2 separate regions of the Homo sapiens genome follow, and region 2 is linked to region 1. Evidence: fine-mapped expression QTL. Tissue or cell type: tibial nerve. Region 1 holds a variant in brackets; the other region holds the start of a gene. All regions are shown on one strand. Distances are between the middles of the regions.

Evidence for each region. PIP is the estimated chance that this variant, and not a neighbour inherited with it, causes the effect.
Region 2: FRAS1 starts here. The variant in region 1 is fine-mapped to the expression of FRAS1 in tibial nerve (GTEx, PIP above 0.99).

The regions. Positions count from the first base shown.
Region 1 is chr4:78,562,541-78,570,649 of GRCh38, reverse strand. All of the region lies in intron 2 of ANXA3 (annexin A3), which reads right to left. Among named protein-coding and RNA genes, the nearest start is that of ANXA3, 15 kb to the right of the region's middle. The variant A/C (reference allele first, on the strand shown) is at 4,598.
Region 2 is chr4:78,052,370-78,060,478 of GRCh38, reverse strand. FRAS1 (Fraser extracellular matrix complex subunit 1) reads right to left here and starts at 3,156. Exons shown (of 74, transcript NM_025074.7): 1 at 2,394-3,156. The coding sequence starts at 2,469. RefSeq lists an enhancer at 3,599-4,570.

The sequences.
Region 1 (8,109 bases):
CAGGCAGAGGCTGAATTTAAAAGCAAACTAGACTATTCCAGACCATTCCTGGTGTTTCATGAAGTGCAGTCTCTGTACCACCTGGAGTGATACTTTAAATGTATATGACCAGGACACACCTTCTATATACTGAATCATATGTTTTAGAGATGGGGTGCTAAATTCTACATGTGTAAGAAGCTCCCAGGTGATTCTGTGCCATGCAGATATTGACGTGGCTGATTCTAAATATAAAAAGACAAAATTGTGGTCAGATCCCAGTTGTTCATGCATCATGAAAACTCAGGGTTTGCACTCCAGCTGTGAACTTTTCACTGGCCTTTACCACCTACACATCAAAATATGCTAAAATGCCAATGCACAGAATTAGAGAAGGAGGAAATTCCCAATTTATTATGCAATTTAGTACTTAGCAAGAATTAAATGGGGGAGGAATAACTTGTTTAATTACAAGGGGGGAAGAAAGTACGCACACACACACCCCAACTTGAAAAAGGGCTTGGGAATTCTGAAGTGGAATTTTAGTGAAATATTTAAAACTGCTTCCATTATTTAAACGAATGGCATTATTCATTTGATAGACTTGGTTGCCCAAATCATTCGGAAATATTACATGACTTACAAAATAATCTTACAATCAAAGATTAATGAAATCTTTTAAAACTAATACATGAACAAAGTGATTTACAAACATTTAACTCTTACAAGAGCCTTCATGAGGTGAATTTTATTATTTCTAATTGAAAATGGAAGAAACCCAGTCTCACAGAGATTATTTGCTTAAAAGAGCTCTGCTAATAAGGACAGCCCCAGGACTCAAACCCATCACCTTATGACTAAAATGCCCCCTGCTCTATGTCACATCACAATGCCTCGAGGGAGTTCATCTTAGTGGTTCTCAAAGTGTGGTTCCTGAAGCAGCTGCATCAGCATCACCCGGGAATGTGACAGAAATGCAAATTCTCAGGCCCAACCCCAGTGTTCCTGAACCAACAACTGCAGGGCCAGGATGCAGAATCTGCGATTTAACAAACCTTCCAGGTGATTCTAGTACACAATAAAGTTTAAGAAGCACTGCTTTATTTCCTTCTTAGCTGTCTAGAAAACCAAAGCAAAAATGAGCAAACAAGCCATGAATTCTCTTATGGGTGTGGAAGATGAAGAATTTAATGATGAGCTCATCGCTTCAGGAATGTCGGCATTTTTACAGCCAAACAGGACTGCTTGCATTGCCTGCTCCACTGCAAGCTTAATTCCTTGACATTTATATTACTAATCAATACTTGGCTGAGTTTATTTCCAGTAACCCTAGTGTCCTAACATAGTCAGTGCTAGCGTAGAACATCACCTGAATACTTGGCAAAGTCTATTTAAAAAAAAAAAAATTGCCTTTGATCAGATTTCCATCCACACATTTAAACACATTTAGTTGCTTTCCTTTTCTGAAACTTGACCTTCAGATGCCTCCAAAAGAAAAATGCTGCTGAAGCCAGTTGGAAAACAAATTAAAGCAAAGAATGTCTAGATAAAGGGGGAAAGTAACAGGAGCTCTTTATACTAAGAACAATTGCTGCTAATCACTATGTGCCAAGTACTGTGCTAAGCGCGTTTCCTGCATTTGCTTATTCAATCCTTGCAATAAACTTATAAGGTAGATATAATAAATCCTTTTCACAGATGATGAAACTGATGATTAAGTAACTTGTCTAAGTTCCCACAGCCAGTAAGTGGTCTGTTCCAACAGTCTTTGCTCCTAAACTAGACTAGCCTTCATCTCATTTAAACCATCTTTTTCAAGACAATATAATCTCCCTTGATCTTCTAAAATCATCCTTCGGAGGTCAGCCTTAGCACATGACACCTTGAAGCCACTGCTTGGCCAAGCTGGGCCTAGGGAGCTGTTTGCTATTGCCCCTGGGAGAGGCCAGTCTGTTTTTGACTCACAAAAGCCAGTTGTACCTATTTCTTTATGCAAAGTGTACTGTGTTTGCAAGAAGTTAAACATTTACATTCAGAAGGATGAGTGGAAGAGAAAAACAGAAGGTGCCAACCCTGTTGATATGAAACATATTTAAAGCCAAATGCTACAGAGCAAGAATAGCAGTTGCTGCAGGGACATTTTGAAGATGCGGTGAAGCCAGATCACTCATCACTTCAGAAAGCCCTATAAAGGCCACATCCAAAAATTGAGGCATCAAATCAAAGCTCCAGATAAAACTCCAGGACAAGGAGCTCTCAAAGAGCCGGGGAGAAACGATGGCTCTCTGTTCAATGTCAAGATGCTATGTTGGGTCATGAAGCTTTATGATACAAGGAAAAATGGAGTAGATTATAAAAAATAAAGCAATCAAACTTGGAAATTGTTAAGACTTCCTGTTCAATTTTTCCAGTAAAAAGCATTTTTCAAAACCAAAGAAAGTTTACTGTAAACAGCCCTGAAATAAAATGCAGTCAAGTGAGGCAGGTGTTATGGGTTGAATTGTGTCTCCCCAAAAAAATACCTTAAAGTCCTAACCCACAGTACCACAGAATGTGGCCTTACTTGGAGACCAGGTTATTGCAGATGTAATTAATTAAGATGAGGTCACAGTGGCAGGCCCCCAATCCAATACCACTGGTATCCTTATAAGACAGCCATGTAAAGGCAGAGACATACAGAAAGAATGTGATGTGATGGTGAAGGCAGAGACTGGAGTTACGCAGCTGCGAGCTGCCAGTATGAGACCAGAATGTGCCTCTTCAAAACATGAAGGATTGTTGAAGACAAGAAGAAACAGATACTCAAGAGATATCTTTCCTCCATTTGCCTAAAAGCAGGACAAAGATTTATGAAGACAAAAGGTATTCTGCCCTCCTGACTACCAGGGAGAACAAAGGTTAAAGACTGAAGATAGTTTAAGACCCTTATCAGCCTGACAATGGTATTAGAAGAATTTATATTAGCAAGCTGTACTAACTAACCTTTATCTGCAAGTTATTTGCCTTTCTTCACTGCCCCACCTGCAAGTTGCTGCCCACAGAGATTCAAAGGTCCTTTTCTATTGTCTTGTTACAAAAAATTTACTGTTCTTTGTTGAAGATGCTATATAAGCTGAAATTCAAAGCCACCTCTGAAAACTACTCATTCTCTTGGTGTCTCCATGTATACTCAAAATACACATGTTAATAAACTTCTGTCTGGTTTTCTCTTGTCAATCTGTCTTTTGTAACAAAGGTGCTTTCCAACTAAGAACCTATGGGGATTACTGTTACTCCCCTATACCAGTAAACCACTAGAAACCAGGAAGAGGCTAAGAAGTTCTCCCCTACAGCTTTCAGAGGGAGGACGGCCCTGACCACACCTTGATTTTAGACTTCTGGCCTCCAGAACTGTGAGATAATATATTCATGTCATTCGAAACCAGCAGCTTGTGGTACTTTATTACAGCAGCCCTAGGAAACTAATACAGCAGGTAAAGGCCAGAGAAAAATACTGGTAACCAAGCGGTTCCTACAGGGCAAATCCTGGGGGCCTCGCCTAAGAGCCTCCTCACCTAGAAGTGCCACTGGCTGGCAATGATCACTGTGCCTATGGAAGATGATGCACAAACAGAAGCCTCCCACCACCACCGCAGGCATGCTCTGCAGCCCACAGGGCAGTAAGGAGTAGGCGGTGCTGAACGTCCACAGCAGGCAAGACTGGCAGACGCTGGGATCCCTGAGATATGCCAGGCTGACAACATGGCTTTGTTCATAATGTGTCCAAAGTTCTGAAGAAAAAGTTTATATTTGTTCTTGGGCTCACTCAAAGAAAAAATATTCATACTTTTCAGCTTTTCTTTTTTAAATTTCTTAAAAATATTTAGGGGGTACAAGTGCAGATTTCTTACATGCAGATGGTGCATGGTGGTGAAGTCTTGGCTTTTATTAGTGTACCCGTCACCCGACTAGTGAGCCCTGTGCTCAATAGGTAATTTTCAGCCCTTAGCCCCTCCCACCCTCCCACCTTTTGAAGTGTTCAATCTCTATTATTCCGTTCTCTATATCAATGTGTACCCATTGTTTAGCTCCCACTTATAAGTGGTATTTGACTTTCTGCTTCTGAGTTATTTCACTCAGGATAATGGCCTCCAGTTCCATTCATGTTCCTGCAAAAGACATGATTTCATTTTTTTTTTTTTTGTGGCTGAGTGGCTGAGTAGTATTCTATAGTATAGTATAGTATAGTATTCTACATTCATTTTCTTAATTCAATCCTCTGTTGATAAACCTTAGTTTTATTCCATATTTTTGCTACTGTGAATAGTTCAGCTTTTCTTTTTTAAATAGAGTGATTTCATCATCAGGGCAGTGTCAGAGCAAGAGGACTGGAATGTGAGAACAGAGGAGGGTGTGGGATGGAGTAGAAAGATGAATGAGATTCAGAAATCAGGGAAGACAGGGACAAACAAGCCATTGATGTTGTATTTTCCATGACACATGAGTTATAATAAGAAGCCTTGACCCCTTGGAGCATGTGTCACTCACAGCTAGCCTGCCTTCCATTGGCTCCTGTGCCTCACCTCCTAGGTTTCTTCCCGCCTCTCCAGGATGCACTCACCTTTGTCTGACCTCTATA[A/C]AATACGCAATTCTAAAGTGGAAAGTGGCTCTCTCTTTTCTTTCCCTCTAATCCTGCTGTGGGTTATTTCTTCCACTCCCTCTTCTGTATACAGAAAAATCCCACATTATAGCTCTAGCCCAGACTTCAGTTCTGAGCACTGGTCTTGTATATTCAATGTCTCCTCCATGTATTTGTTTTGATTATCTCCTATATCAACTCATTGTTTCCTCCCAAGCTATTTCTTCCCCCTTCTGACACTTACATAGTACTTACTTGTATTTTACATATACCTGATCATTTAATCCTCAAAACCACCCTATGAGGTAGGTACAATTAATACCGTGATTTTATAGAGGAGAAAAAAGAGGGTCCAGAGCGGTTAAGACACTCGCCAAGGTCACATAGGTAGTTTGTGGCACAGCCAGGATTTGAACCTAGGCAATCTGGCTCCAGTTTCTGTGCTCATCGCCAATTTGCTCAGTTTCCTCAACCTTCCCCATCCCTGTAAAAGGAGCAATCATCAGCCACCAGAAACCTGGGAGTCCCCTTTGATTCCTTCACCTGCATTTCCCTCTGAATTCCATCTATCAGCAAGGCCTGCTGAGATTATTTTAAGAAGATAATCGCATGGGCGCTCCTCCCCAGGTTCTTTGCTCCTGCTCTTGTCCAACTCACAATCATCGCTCTCCCGTACTTGAACATCTGAGTCATGTTCCTCTCTACTTCCTACTTCCCATCTCCAGCCATTTCCCACATAGCAGCCAAGGGATCTGTTAAAGATCTAAGTCGGGCCAGGTGGGGTGACTCACACCTGTAATCTCTGTGCTTTGGGATGGATCACCTGAGGTCAGGAGTTCGAGACCAGCCTGGCCAATATGATGAAACTCTGCCTCTACTAAAAATACAAAATTTAACCAGGCGTGGTGGCAGGTGCCTGTAATCCCAGCTACTCAGGAGGCTGGGGCAGGAGAATCACTTGAACCCAGGAGGCAGAGGTTGTAGTGAGCTGAGATCGTGCTACTGCACTCTGGTCTGTGCAACAGAGCGAGACTCCATCTCAAAAAAAAAAAAAAAAAAAATCTAAGTCAGATCTTGTCACTCCCCTATTTCACACTGAATAGAGTCCAAACTCCTTACACTGGTCCATAGGGCCCTGCATGGTTTGGCCCAACCACCTTCATGACTCTTATCTGGAGCCACTCTCTCCAGATGAGAGGTAGAGTTCCCACACTTCAGTTCTTTGAAAGTCAAGCTGGTATACAATGAACTCTTTCCCACCTTAATGCCTTGGTTTGTGTTGTTCTCTCTAACTGGAATGATTTTTACCTTCAGTCCTCTCCTTAAAGACCATCTTCTCTAACAGATCTTCTTTGGCACTTGATCTGAGTAGGTCTTCTACTGTTATTCTGCATCTCAGCCACCTCTCCATTGTTAGGGCACTCAGCATTGAGTAATACCTCTCGCTGTTTATATCTGTCTCTCCACCCCCTCTAAAATAAAATTCCAGAAGGCAGAGACATTTGTTTCACTCATTCCTATTTATCCAGCTGGGAGCCCAGTGCTCAGTCCCCAGATAGGGGCTTAATACATAACTGTGAATTAGTTTGCTAAGTAAGAATATGAAAGCAAGACAATGACATCTCACAGTGTGGACTTTCTCCAAGCTCTACACTAGATGGTTGGCTGCCCGATGAGTTGCTTCCTTCAAGTATCAATAGTCTAGAAATCAAAGTTCCTATTGTATTCTGGGAGATTTGGGAGATACTTCAGAAGCTGAGTGTTTTCTAGTACACTGGAGACATGAAATGCATGACTGTGTCTGGTGATTCTGTTACATCTTCCTTCCTGTCTCTCCAAGCGCTCAGGGTTTCTCTGACAAAGGTAGCAAACCCAACTATCTGGATTGAGTTTGAAACACTTGGCCTCCCCAGAGACTTTATTAACATGAACATCTTTCTCAGAATAATTTTCATGTATTTGTTTAAAGCAGATTATAAATAATTTGTATTAATCTTCTTTTGAGTCATCTAGCACCAGTATTTGTAGATTATCTCTTTGTTCTACAATCAAAGTAAAGTGCTTAACCTAGTTAAGAGTTCTTGACCAAATTCTCTTGGCCAAGGGTCACAAAGATTTGAAGACTAACATGGCTATTCTGGCCACATACTCAGCCCTGTGCATGTGTAACTTCTGCGGGAGACGTCCCTGTCTAAGGGTCCTGCAATCTAACAGGAATATATAGAGAATTTATATCTTCCTGGATATATGGAGAAATATAGGGAATTTGGCTCACTGAAGTGCAGAATCCACATCTTCTTAAATGGCCCTTGGCTAGAGAACGGTGGCTGTCTGTCTTAGCATTCCAGGCTGATATAACAAAATACCACAAACTGGGTGTCTTATAAATAATAAAAATTTATTTCTCACAATTCTGGAGGCTAAAATTCCAAGATCAAGGTGCCAGCAGATTCAGTGTCTAGTGAAGGTCCACTTTATGGTTCATATACGGCACCTTCTGGCTGTGTTCTCACATGGCAGAAGACGTGACCAAGCTCCCTCAGACCTCTTTTAAAAGGGCAATAATCCCCACCTAACCTAATCACCCCCCAGAGATCCCATCGCCCAATCATCCTGAAGGTCAGGATTTCAACCTATGAATAAGGGGCAGGTTGGTGGGGGAGGGGGAACGACACAGACATTTAGACCACAGCACTGGCTTTGCAGGATTTGGGGACACTTACTCTATCCACCTCACTCCTATGAGGATGAGAAACCTGTGAGGGACTGGGATCAGGGATGTCTCCTGTTTGTAATATTCTGGGCAGAATACTTCTTACATAAATGGCCAAGGTAAATGATGTCTACTGGACATGATGGTAAATGCATTATTTTATGGGTTATTTATGAGTTTTTTTAAAAAGCGATAATCCCAACAAGAAGTTGCAGCAAATTTAAGAATGCTTCCTAATGTAAAGTAAACCTAGAGAATGGAAACTCCTTGAACAGTCCATGTGAAGACTTCTTGGGACTCTCTGTGGCCCTTGGAGGATAATAAAGTACCATAAAAGAGAATTGTAATACCTCCCCCAATCCCCTTGTAATCTTGTATCCCTGTTTTTGCTTCGTGGGAATCTTCCTGTTGCATTCAAATGTGTCTTGCCCATCTGCCTCAGGGCTTACACTTATCATTCCGTCTGCCTGGCTGCTCTTTCCCGAGATATTCCCTCAGCTCACCATCTCATGCCACGTTGACTTCTCCTCCTATATCTGAGCAGAAAATCACACCCCCCATCATATTTATTATCCACCTTTACTTTTCCCCAGAGCACTTAAAACTGTCTTTTTATACTGTACATTTATTTCTTCATTTATTGTCTGTCTTCCCTAATAAAATGTAGGTGCCATCCTTTTTATTTCTCTTTCTCTGCTGTGTTGCCAGAGCCAATATCTGGCATATAAAAGATAGTTAGTAAATATTAGTTGAGTGAATAAATGAATTAAAAATGCTTTCTTGTTCTGCATCCTGTTTC
Region 2 (8,109 bases), 510 kb after region 1:
TACCAACCACAATTGTTCTCTCTGTGCACTGAGAAGAAAACGACAAATTCTGCCATAAGCTGGTCAGCAAAGGTGTCACAAGGTACATCCCATCAAAAGAAGTATACATGTGAATGTCTCTTTTCTATTTTTAAAAATTATTCTCTAGGCTGATAATAAAAACTTGAGGAGATTTCTAAGATCCTTGAGGTTTCCAACCTTGATCTCAATGCTCTTATTTTTTAAAGAAAAAGAAAACCTTGAGAGGACCAAACCAGAGGTCTCATCAGATGACAAATGTTTTTTTGTCTGTGGGAGTGATATCACTTAATTAAACTAATTAAATGAGATAAAGTATGTAAAGTGCTTAGCAAAGAGCCAGGCAAACAATACCTGCTCAATAAATGGCCATGTTCATTCATTCATTCATTCATTATTAGATAAGCACCATTATGACGTGGGTGGAAACTCAGACATCTATCAATTTATCAATCCAATTTGTGAAACAGCTATAGAATGCTCTGACAGTAAAGTCAAACAATAAGAAGCAAAGTTTCCAAAGACTCTTTGGAGTAATATCCACACCCTCTCTCCGCCCCCGCCCCCGCCCCCCGTCTCTACCCCCAGCTTTCTGTGCTTCACATCCCCCCATCCCCACCTCCCAGTCTAGATTCCGCACTTCTTAAACTTGGCCCACTGGATCAAGCAATCTGCCAAAGAGCGCACCCTGCAGGCTCTTAATAATAATGCCTTTTGTTGATTTCAGAGTTTTGGTTCCGACAAGCTGCACCATTCCAACTGCCCCCTGGTGAGCTATCCGGGAGTGATAGCACGTTTCCTGCGTTGCTGGGATAGGACTCTAAATTTTAAAAACTGCCACCAAGTGAAATTAATTTTTCTAAGTACCAAGTTCAGGTTTGGGTGGCCTGGGGTGACTCTCTCATCTGGTTTATTGTTATAATCAAGCCCTACAAGCTTTTTTTTTTTTTTTCCAAAGTACGCGCCCACACGCACATAAACAATAAAGTTATATTTCTACAGGACTTGCACTGTTGGGAGAAGGCTGCACAGGCCCCAGATGTGCCTTTCGCGGAGATTATACACACTTGACACACATCCCGGAAGAGTGCAGAAGGCAGCACCTGGACCCACGGGAAAGTCCCCCACCCTTGTGCGTGGATTCCCAAGGCCTTTCTCTTGGGAAGCCAGCAAAGAAAAGGCAGCTGCTCCAGTGACTGGAGGTCGACCCGAGGCAGAGCTTTGTCCTCCCCGGGCCTCCCGCAGCCCCCAGTCCTGCGCCAGAGCTCGACTCCCGGGAGCCGCCCCGCGCCCCTTCCTAGGCACCAGGGCGGAGAAGGCGGCCCGCCCTGCGCCCGCCGCCGCCGCCCAGCCGCGGCTCTGGTTTGCGGCTGGGCAGGTGAACTCTTCTTCCCGCAGCTGGATGAATAATGAATGGAGCCGGGAGGGGAAGCCGAGAGCCAGGCGCTGTGGATTAAGCCGTCTTCCTCCCAGCCCGCCGGCTCCCTTCCCCCTCCCTAAGCACTGGCGGGGCGACTTCCCTGGCTCCTCGGAGCAGGAGGGAGCTCACAGCGCCTCGCGTCCCCAGGCCCGGCATCCCATGACCCCAAACTCTTGATTTACTTATTGACTCATTTATTTGGCTGAGCCCGGATTGCATTTGATATCATGGCGACAACTAGTCTCACGGCTTCCTTTTCTCTCCTGCGGCTCCGGGGTTTTACAGGTAGCTTGGAGCCTCGGAGGAAAACCAGGAGGCGGAGGGTGAAGTAAAAGAATGAACCTAAACTCTTATTAACCACTTTTGTTCTGGGAAGCAGGCTGGTTCGTGCTTCTCCGTACTGGAGAGATTTCTTTCAGTGCAACTGAACTGCCCACGACCAGAACACGCTCCAACCAGTTAGTTATAAAATCCTAACTGGACTTTAGGGGGAGACTAACTGAGGTAAGGAGGGCGGGAGAGCGATGGGGCTTTAAGATGAAAGACTGTATGTTTCTTAGGAACAGAAGTATTTTTAAACAGGTAAGAGCAATTGTTCGCTCCTCACCTGTGCTCCATGCAGTTGCTTTCCCTTCGGGGAAAGGTAGGTGGTGGAAAGAAAAAGGATCAGTTTCAGAGATGTCACCTCCATCGGCCACCCACCCACCCAAAAGCACTTAGGGCAGAGAGGGAGGCCGTTTCGGGGGTGTAATCCGAATACAAAACAATCAGGAGTAGGAATCTTATCAGAAAAAGCCTATTCCAGTTTCACTTCCACCTCACCCTTCCCAGAAAAACTTCCACCTCACCGAAATACCATAAAACCTGCTGAGATTTTTAAACTGCACGATCACTCACACATACACACACACACGCACACGCACACACACACACACACGCGGCACCGCTCTCTCACCTTCGGAATGATGAGGCAATACTGCAAATTCCGCCAACGCTAGGGCCAGCCCGAGCCACACTTTGAGGACACCCATCGCCGCCTCGGCACCCACGATGGAGGAGCCCAGCCTTCAGCATCCAAGAAGCGGCTCCGCCAAAACGCTGGCTCCGGCGCTTGGAACCCGGGCGCACTGAAGGTGGGGGACCGCGGGCCTTTACCTCCGGGAAAAAGAGATGGACGGGCGGAGAGCGACACTCATCAGCCCGGAGGCGCCGGAGCGGGCTGGGGTTCAATTCACTCGCTGCTCAGGCAGAGAGCGCGCCGAGTTCCCCCGCAAGGCAGGACGCCAACGTGAGCTTTGGGAGAATAAGAGGAGGCAGAGCACAGTTCTCCGCGTCAAAATCTCGCCGGAAAGTTGCTGGTCACTGGCCGATGGGATCTTCCAGCATTTCCCTCGGGCTAGACCCTTCCGATCCCGGGTCCCCGACAGTGGAAATCCTGGCTCTGGTTTGTCCGAAGCAGCTTTTTAAAGTTCGCTTGGCACCATACGTCGGCGTTGCGTCGGCACCGCGGGTCGCCGGGAGCCCCGAAAGACCCACCCACACCCACTCCTTGGTCGAGCCACCCGGCTCGGCAGACCTCATCTGCCGGGGTCCGCTCGCTGGAAACTGTGCAGCGCTGAGGGCAGCTCCGGGGACTCGCCCGCCCTGCAGCCGCACCGCACCACACCGCCTCAGGCTGCGCTCCCTGAAGCAGACTGTTCGGAAGCTTCAGAGGAAAGACTGGGGGGCGCTGCTGCTACTTTCTCGTCCCCGCCCCTCGCCTGGGTGAGGAGGGCTGCGGGGACGCGGCTTGCTGCACACCAACACCCACCTCCGCGCTGAACACCCCGGAGGAGGTCTGCAGGGTAGAGGTGCAATGATTACGGGAGTGGAAGAAGAGCCATAATTTTAATTGCACGGAGGAAAAAGCTAGCGAGGCTGGAAAAGACCCCCAAACTCAAGGCCACTCTGGCGAGAGAGCCTGGAAACGCCCAAAATACGCCGGGTCTGGACCCCGTGTTTAAAGGACACACGTTCAGCCTTCCTCTAGTCTCCCTTGCCTCCTTCCTCTCTGCTTTGCTCGGTGTGAAAATGGACCCAGAGACTCGGAGCTTTGGCGAAATTCCAGAGAGTCACGTGGGGAAAGGGAGAAGCGAGGAGGGAGGTGAGGGGAGGCCGGGAGAGCAACCTGATCCCTTTATTCATTCTGCTGGAGTTCAGATTGGCTTTGTCTGGGGAGGAATCAAAAGTGCTCATACCGGGGACGGAGGGGGTGGAGATAGGTTGCACAGTTCTTGCTCAGGCACACCGGAAGGCAGATGAACCGTGTCCACATCCCTTGTTAGGGGAGGAACCGATTCGGCGGGCTGGGGGAGCGTGTGCCCACATCAAAGGCCCTGGGGCTACCTCCCACCCCCACAGCCCGCCACTCCTGCTGAACTAAGTGCGTCCGGGGGACCTGATTGATCCTTCTTCCTCGCTCTGGGACCCTCAGGCTGTTGCATCCTGGCTTTTACCAGCAGCCCGGGAAGATCTTGGTGTGTGTGTCCTAGGCGGAGCCTGAGAGCAAATGCACCTTTCCCTTTCCCTAGGAGACTCTGTCAGTGGAACACAACGCGGTCTGGGAGCTGTGGGTCCAGCTGCGCCCCCAGATGCCAATGGCTGGGAAAGTAACATCAGGACACGGCCGACTGGGGCGCGCACTTGAAGAGCAGAGGCCTTGATTCCCCGCCAGGACTGACTGACGGCAGCTATTTTTATAGGACCGAATAAAAATAGCTGGTCCACGTTTAATCGTTTTATAAGGGAACAGTTGCATCAGAGAGATGCTGACTGGGTTCTGATTGGCCCAGAGAAGAAACGTCTCGGGTCCCTCAATTGAGTCGGGATGGGCGAAACTGTTGGAGGGGAAGCAGTTGCATGAGCTGTGCTGGCGGGGGTCCCACTTGTTTCCAGTCTTCACGAACACCATGACGCGGGCCCACGTTCTAACGTGCACTGACGCCACTTGGAACAATTCACTTTTCCGAATAACTGGAATAACTTGAAACTGGCAGGTCCCTGTCAGTGTTACTATTCAGCCAGAACAAAGGAGAACCTCTGACAACCTGGCTCTGAATCTTAAGTATTTGGAGGACCCAGGGTTTGCACATTTCGCCCTCAGTCTCTCTGTTGGGCTGTGGTCATTCTAGGGACAGAGGTTGTATCATCTTTGTATAATTGAAGCACATAGTAGGTGCTCTTTAAACATTTGTTGAAATAATGGATTAAGTGCCTGAGAGCAGCGGCCATATCAAGGGGAGCTGCGGGCCTTAACCTCCTCCCAAAAAAAGACCCCTCCCTTTTTATTTAGAAAGTAGGGCCTGTGCGGTGGCTCACGCCTGTAATCCCAGCACTTTGGGAGGCCAAGGCAGGCAGATCACGACGTCAGGAGTTCGAGACCAGCCTGGCCAACATGGTGAAACCCCATTTCCACTAAAAATACAAAAATTAGCCACGTGTGGTGGCACATGCCTTTAATCCCAGGTACTCTGAAGGCTGAGGCACGAGAATCACTTGAACCCGGGAGGCAGAGGTTGCAGTGAGCAGAGATCTCACCACTGCACTCCAGCCTGGGTGACACAGCGAGACTCTGTCTCAAAAATAAAGGTCGGGCGGGGCGGGGGGGTGGAGGACATCTTCTCAATCCATGTAAAGTGATGTGCAAATTCAAACTCAGCTTCCAACACACTCTGACAACCAGACGGTCACCCTTAAACCCCCTCCTAATTTTGCAGCTGCTACTGAATGGGAGTAACTTAAACCGTTTGTTCTCTCAAAAATCAACAATTTGATTTTATTTTAAAAATCAAGCTGGGTGCAGTGGGGTGCACCTGTAGTCTCAGCTACTCCAGAGGCTGAGGCGGGAGGATCACTTGAGCTTGGAAGTTGGAGGCCATGGTCCACCCTGATTACGCCTATAAATAATCACTGCACTCCAAAAATCATACAATTATGGCACAGGTCTCAATAAGATATCTGTTATACTTGCTAATTGCAAATATGCTACTTTTCAAAAAGGAAAAGCAATAAATAAAGGGAGAATAGCACTACCAAGTTACCCTGAATTAATCATATGCTGTATTTATTGGATTTATATATAACATCCCCCCTTGACCACCAGTCCACCACAGGGGCACATGCTGGCCCACTCACATAGTCCTCCCTCTGCCCTAAGTAGTCAAGGGAGAAGGCAGCCTGAGTCCTTGCCCTAAGATCACTTGGAAGAGCAAAGGGTCAACCAATATTTCTGTAATATTAGGCATATCTAACACCTATGTTCACTTCAACTGAAATGTTGGAAAAAGAGATTATATAAACCTAACATATTTCATTATGATGAAAATTTAGTAAGCATGTTTATGGAGATGCACCTAATCATAACTAGCTTATCTCTATAAGTTAACCTCCACAAATGACAGCTTCATGCTTCCTCATAGGAAGTTGGCAATTCACTAGCCAGAGATATTTGGGTCTATATCTTCAGTCCTCTTTAGTTACAAGTCCAGATTCCACAACTTTTGTTAATATGTTCCACAATATCTCCTTGGATCAGCCCTGCTGTCATCTCTTCACAACTCCCTGTCCTTGTTGCTGCCCATTTTGGGGAATTTATTTATCAACTCCTGCTGTAAACGATAATAATAACAATGATAACACATATTGAATATTTTGTGCCTAACACTGTACACTTTCTCATGTAATCCTCCAATAACCACGTGAGATAGGTGCTATTATTATTTCCATTGACAGGTGAAATAACAGATGTTCAGAGAGTTAAGTAATCTATCCAAAGTCAGACAGCTAGTACCTGACAACGCATATCAGAGCAAGAAATTCTAGCTCTCATAACAGGCAAACTCCCAAATCACAGTATCTTAACACAAAAAGAGTTTATTTCATGATCACATCTTGGCCCCTGGGAATTGGTGACTCCTTCTAGTCAGGCCATCATGAAACATATGACACCCATGGCTTCTGCATGGGGTAATGAAAGAGGCATTGCAAACTTTAAGGGCCTCAGCCCTTCCTGTCACAGTTCAATGACAAGAATGAGTATTGTGACCCCTATCTACTTACAAGGGAGGATAGGACACATAGGGGAAGACATATCTATTTAGTGAGCACTAACTGTACTGCTTTACCCTAGCACCCATGCTCTTATCTAGCTTAACTGTCCTTAGTTATCTATCTATCTATCTATCTATCTATCTATCTATCTATCTATCTATCATCTATCTGCCTACAGTTAACTATCTTAACTGTCCTTACCAAGGCCCCAGTTGCACATTCCCTGATGCCACCAGGGCTCTGCTGACCTTTATTACAACTCCTCTACAGATTCAACAGTCTGCCTTTGCTCTGCTTTCCTGCTCATCTGCTTTCCTGCTCATCTGCTTTGCTCTTTTTACTCTTTCTCCCTCCCATCTCCCTTTCCTCTGCTTCTCACTGTCTTTCTTCTGCATAACCCTACTCTGTGTGTTGAGTCTTCTATCACATCTTTCTCCTGTACGTGCCTTCTCTGATCTTCTTTCAGTTGCCCTGGGAGTGTTCTTGCAGTCGTAGTGCATTTGTTCTGCTTTGTGCATTCCAGCATGCGACAATATTTATTGCCTTTTTTCTGCTTCAAATAGTTATTCCAAAAAAGAATATTCAAATAATACAGAAATATAAACTGATTGGCTCTGTTATAATCTAGCCCCTCTGCAAGGATAACCACAGCATATACATTCAGAGATTTTCCCCTGCTTAAAGATAATTCCTTTTACAAAAATGGGATTATAACTTACATGCTATTTTATAACTTGCCTCCCGCTCTGAACAATATACTGTGCTATAGGCAAGCCACAAGTTTCCAAGCCAAATCATATTGATCTATGTCATTATTTTTAAGAGCTGCTCTGGTTAACATTGTATTGATATGTCTATTTCGCCAATCCCCTTTTGAAGAACGTTTAGATTGTTTCCAATTTTTTGCCATTGTAAACAATACAACACTAAATGTCCTTATAAAAGCCCTTTATGTACTTACCCAATTTATTTCCCCGGAATAAACTTTTGTAGGTGAAACTGCTGTGTCAAAGCATGAATAAAAACTTTTGTAGGTGAAATTGCTGGGTCAAAGCATGCTCATTTATCATTTTGATCTGTATCATTTAATCTGCAAATCGCAAAAGATAAAATAGCACTTTTCTGAACACCACTTATTAGCTGTGTCCTCAGGCATTTTAACCTCTGAGCCTCGGATTCCCTGTCTATAAAATGGACATTATGATAGTGCCCACCTCACAGGAATTTTGTTTGCATTAAATAAGACAAAAGTACCTGACTCAGGTTATCCACTTAACAGATGTTAGCCAAGTAAAATAGAGGTATTTTTAAAATCTGCGTTTCTCTGCTCTAATGAGCAGATGTGAGCTGAAACACCTTTCATATACTTATTGTGTGTGCGAATGGCCTGTTTATAGTGGGTTCTTTTTTTAGTGGGTTTTTTGTTTCTATGTAGAACTATAAGTGTTCTTCACATATTCAGGATATTCATCCCTTTCTCTGAATTTGGATAATCCCTTACTGAAAGGGAGTAGCTATTTACTGTTTATTTTTGTTGGAAATTGTCATTTCCTCAGCAGTGTCACTGGAAGTGCATGAAAGAT